Linked DNA regions of Homo sapiens: region 2 is linked to region 1. Evidence: fine-mapped expression QTL. Tissue or cell type: whole blood. Region 1 holds a variant in brackets; the other region holds the start of a gene. All regions are shown on one strand. Distances are between the middles of the regions.

Region 1 (2,763 bases):
AAACATGGAAAATTAGCGGTAGACTCTTAGGCCACTACAAATTTTTTTTCTGATATTCATTATCATGCATACAATTTGCCCTTTACATTTTTGTCTGTTGTATGAAGTCCTCATTCTCAAATTTACTTGTCCCAGCACACACAGATTAACATTCCATTTTCGCACTGTAGTGTTCTTTATTAGGCTTACAAAGTTCTTCTGAGACATGGTGTTTGATTCTTTGATATGTCTATTCCAGAGAACCAATTGTAAACCAATGATCTGGGGTTTTTTTGTTTGTTTGTTTGTTTTTGTTTGTTTGTTTGTTTTGTTTTGAGACAGAGTTTTGCTCTTGTTGCCCAGGCTGGAGTGCAATGGTGCGATCTTGGCTCACTGCAACCTCTGCCTTACCAGGGTTCAAGCGATTCTCCTGCCTCAGCCTCCCAAGTAGCTGGAATTACAGGTGCCCGCCACCACACCTGGCTAATTTTTTGTATTTTTAGTAGAGATGGGGTTTCACCATGTTGGCCAGGCTGGTCTAGAACTCCTGACCTCCGGTGATCCACCTGCCTTGGCCTCCCAAAGTGCTGGCATTGCAGGTATGAGCCACCACACCTGGCCCCAGTGATCTGTTTTTATGAATTGAGAATAGAAGACAGCATAATAGTAACAAAAAATGTAAATTTATCAAACAACATACAAATTATATGAAGATATGCCATAAACTTTATCCTGTTTTCTGACTGTTAGCACATGGATAAACTAAACAATATAGTCCTTTAGTGCATGTGTAACCAGTGTAAATGTTCTAAGAATGAAACAAAACATCTGTGAAAATAATCATTAAAGTTATATGCCATATTTGTGAAATGCATGTGAACCAAATTTTTCCATCATATTTTCCTCTAAAAGTGCCAAACAGCCTACCAAACTACATGGTATGCTTTCTGTATCCTAAGGGACTCTGTTTCTAGCCCTTTCCTTTCTTCAAGGGTTTCAATCATTATCTGCTAAATCCTCTTTTCTCATTTTAACCCAATTCAAAAACTATAGATTGAGCTCCTCTCTATGAAATACTCCATAACCATCGTGACCTGGGCACAGGTCAAAGACAGTCCCCCACACCCCTCAGATACCCCATATGACAGAAGGCAGGGTTAGGCTCTGTGAAACCAGACAGGCTGTGGAATCCTAAGACCGAGGGCACAGGAAACAAGCAAAGGGCTGAAAAAGCCCACAGGGGCAAGAAGTCAAGCCTGACCCTCCCCCAGTACTTGAGAATATACTTGAATGTGCTTGTTTGATCTAGCTAACTCCTCTAACTGCCTTTTTCTTTTTTTTCTTTGCATTTACTGACATACTCTCAAAAGAATGCTCTAGGATCCATGGTTTCCATTGCTTCATCACTTACTTCCTCCTTACCCATTGCAACATACCTCACAGCTTCAACACTACAGCATTCTCTGTGGTAATCGTT[C/G]TCTCCCTGTTTCTTTTCCACTACGTTACATGAGTGCCTCTCAGGGGAGCAGGGGGACATTTCAGACTGGCCGGTAAGACTCTGTCAGCCTCCCCCTCAGAATCACCTAAGTCACTGGTTCTCAACCATTGCACATGAAGATCACGTGGGGAGATTTTAAAAGATACCAATGCCCAGGCTTTGTAATGAGTCAGCTTGGCTAGGCTAAACAACATTTCCCAGAATGCCCTTTCTGGTTAGGGTGGGCCACAAAAGAGATTTGGGGGCAATTTTGGGGGTAGGAAGTGAAGCAACCTCCATTTCATAGCCCTCATATATTGTCGCTTATCTGCTGGCTCATCTTATTGTCATAAACCTGCAACTAGACCTGCACCTGGGCCAGGTGATGTTGTTAGCCCTGTGACAAAGGGCCCCAGTTTCTGCAGGACACCCACACCAGCCAGGTCAGAGGCAACAGGAAGTGACATGGGTTTTAGTCCCTCATTATGGGCACCAGCTGGTTCTCACTTTTTCCATCCATCCCCCATTTCACATCCTTCTCCCCTTCCTGTCTGACTGTCCTGTCCTTCAGGCTTCAGCATCAGACACAAAGACAACACCTTACAGAGACTACTTACCCAGCTCCCACAATTGCATATGCTCAAATTCCTGTAACAGATCCCTTCATGTATAGGTATGCTTCTTCAAGTGAACCCTGCCTGAGAAACTCCTCCAAACCAATTATGTCTGATGGTCAGAGGTGAAGCCCAGACATGAGAATGTGTTAAAAGTTCTCTGGATGTTTCTAACATGGTTAAACACCATCTGCCCTAGGGTAAAAACCTCTACATGCAATTGCAAATCCTTGCCAGAGTAAGCCTATAGTGGATGGGAATCCTTCAGCTGAGCTAGCCTTGAGAAAAACCTAAAATCCTGCCCTACTCTATGTGTTTTTCCTGATTTATTCTTCCTTTTCCTTTTTCACAAAGCTAGCCTCTGCCCACCTCACAGACCACTGCAATCTATCAATCTCTAGTCTTTCCTCCCTCCCCACCTATAGCCTATAGACTGATCTGGAAATGTAAACATAACATCCCTCCATGCTCAAAGGCTTTCAGCAACTCCCTGTCCTCCAGGGATCAAATCTAATCTCCTTACCTGGTATTCAAACCCCTCCAGAGTCTGGCTTCTTCCTACCTGGCCAACCTATCCTCCCCCTCCCTTCCCACTATAAACCCTACCAGCTTTCTGAACCTCCATCAACCAAAGAAAGAATAAAGCAGTGATCACACAATAAAAAGGGAAAGGTTTTCTCTTGGCCTTCTTGG
Region 2 (2,606 bases), 69 kb after region 1:
CACGTCACAGAAATTAAGGAAGGAAGAAAAAAGGGAGGGAGGGAGGAAGAGAGAATGGTAGAAAGGAAGGAAGAAAAAAGTAGGAATGAAAACATAAAACAACATAAACCAACATAAAATACAGAAAATAATGATCCTCAGTCAAGTTCCTTCAGCATTATATTAACCTTTCTTCACTTCTAACCATCTGCAGAAACTGTTTTCCAGATTGTATTTTCCCTCTAAAGCAAGTTTTTAAGGCCGAAAAAAAAAAAAGAACAAGAACAGTGAGTGGAGAATCAACAAATTTAATTAGCAATGATTACAGAAAACTTAAATAGCACACACAACTCTATAATCCCTCTACCCCCAATTCCAACATCTGACTGATCAACCAACCATAAAATGTGAGAATCCATCCAGAAGGAAAGAACAGCTGTTAAGCTGTAGGGGTAAGGACCCTGTGGCAGAAGACCCTGAGGCCATGTGGGCCCAGGTGGCCAGCAGGAGCGGAAAGGCTGGGAAGGCTCCTCAGTCCAGGGCTCACAAGACTCCCTTCGCTTCAGGCCTGACTTTGCTGAACTGGTGATCTATTGGGACAGAGACAGGCTTTGGCAATAGTTACCAAAGCCTGTCATCATATCTGCACCACCACCAGTCCCGACCGGAGGGCCTGGCTGCCAGGTAGTTTTCAGTCTAACTGACAGGAGAAGAGAGAGCCCCTCCCTCGCAGCTAGTCTGCAGTCCAGACCCTCACCAACCGGAGGGCAACCAGGTTAAACAGTTAAACTGAAAGCAAAAGAGGGAGGAATGAACCGGGGGGCGTGCGGGAGGTCGGGGACTTTCCTCCTTTCCCTCCTGGAAAGTTTCCTACCCCTGATGGGCATCCTCCCACCTGGATGCAACCCGGAGGCGATCTGAGACCCTGGCCGGACCTGGGACCGCACCTGGCCAGCACCAGGCAGTTGTCATCACTGGGGTCTGCGCTGAGGGCCTGGGAGAGAAGCCACTCTTCAGGCGGGCTCGGGCGCCTGGAGGCGGGGAGGAAGGGCGGCGCACTCGGACCCCAGCCCTAGGACGGCCCCAGGGGGACGCCTCGCTCGGCCCTCCCGGAGGGACCGGACCCGCCGCGCGCCTCCCGCTCCTCAGGCCCCCTCACCTGGCTCGCCCCGCCGTCCTGTCCCCGCCTGGCTCGGGTCCTCGCGCGCCGCGTCCACCCGCCGCCGGCCTTTTTTGGGTCGTTGGCGGGTATTTTCCGCCTGGCCCCACATCACTTCCCGTAAAGGAGAGCGAGGTGGGGCGGGACCTTCTCTCCTCCACCTCCCGCCTTCTCCTGTCACCTCGGGAGCGGCCCCCGCCCGGCTGGCGGGGGGCGGGGTGCTGTCGCGCTCTCCCCGGCGGCCGCGCCTCCGAGGGGTCCTCTGTGAGCCCCGAAAAGGCCCCGCTCGCCTCCTTTGTCCCAACACTAGTTTCCGCTGCCCCATTCTGGAAGGCGCTACAAAATATAGGAGTGTTTTCGTTTTGGGACACAGGAGGGACATTTACAAACTGCACCAAGGACCGGTGCGCGGCGAGGTGTCGTTTGGGGACTCTCCCCTATTCACCTCCCCAAAAAGCCATGTTCTAAGGGTGTTTTCCACGGCATCAGTTCGCGGTCGCCACCGTAGCAGCCGGAGGTGCCGGGCGTACTCACGCCGGCCCCGCCCGAGGTTCCCGAGTCCGCGCGGCTCCTGAGGCGGCGTCCCAGGCCCGGCCCTGCCCCCGGCTTCCCGCCCCTGCGGCTCCTGGCTTAGGTCGGCCTGGACACGGCGTTTCCGGGGCAAGGGAATGCCCAGGATTCCTGGAAATAACATGGGAGAAAAATAAGTAAAAAATTTCGCAGGAAAAAAATCAATGTAATTCCGGGAGGAAATGGCAAACGGAGTCTCTGCTCACACTGTGTAATTCAAGAATATAAAACCACTGTAAATTTCTAAGAGTGTTAGAGCAATGAGTTTAAAAAGAAGAAAACTACAGTATGTTAAGGAACCGCCTCTGTCGGAAGAAACCTGCGCGCCTTTGCTGCCACCCAGCGGCTCTCTTCTCCCAGCGCCAACGGTGTCGCTCCGGCCTGCGGGGTAGTGAACCTGGGACTGCGTAGGGGGTCAGACCTCGTGGTTCCCACTCAGAGGCAGCCAAGTTCATCCCTCTCAGTGGCCAGGAGGTGTGAACAGCAGCCCTTGGGCCTGTCCCTATGGAGTCTAAGGCAAAGGCCCTTTGAACCAAATGTTTCCACTTCTAAGCAGAGTAAAATGTTGAGAAGCCTTAGTTCAGCTTCCCTTCTGCCTTCTAAGCCGTCTCGCTGACTTGTGTCTACCTCCACCGCAAATTCCAGCTGTCGCAGGCCCACCCGGTCAACTCCATCACCTTTCCAGTCTGTAGCTACTCACAGTTGGCATTACAGCAGTTAGCTTCTCAGGTGGGTCCAATTTACAAAATCACATATAGGATGAACCATATGAAATTACAAACAGTTGGCAATTTCATACATTTGATATAACATTTCCAGGCAAACATAACACAGTAAACTCGGGTTTAGAGATAACAAATGTCCTAACAGGTTGATAACTTCAAGAGCTCTTCCCGTG

The links. PIP is the estimated chance that this variant, and not a neighbour inherited with it, causes the effect.
Region 2: RAB27A starts here. The variant in region 1 is fine-mapped to the expression of RAB27A in whole blood (TOPMed, PIP above 0.99).

What each region holds. Positions count from the first base shown.
Region 1 is chr15:55,219,971-55,222,733 of GRCh38, forward strand. The region is part of intron 6 of RAB27A (RAB27A, member RAS oncogene family); the gene reads right to left. Among named protein-coding and RNA genes, the nearest start is that of RSL24D1, 24 kb to the left of the region's middle. The variant C/G (reference allele first, on the strand shown) is at 1,457.
Region 2 is chr15:55,288,578-55,291,183 of GRCh38, forward strand. It overlaps RAB27A (RAB27A, member RAS oncogene family), which reads right to left and starts at 1,236. Exons shown (of 7, transcript NM_183235.3): 1 at 1,139-1,236. RefSeq lists a silencer at 924-1,453 and an enhancer at 1,554-1,703.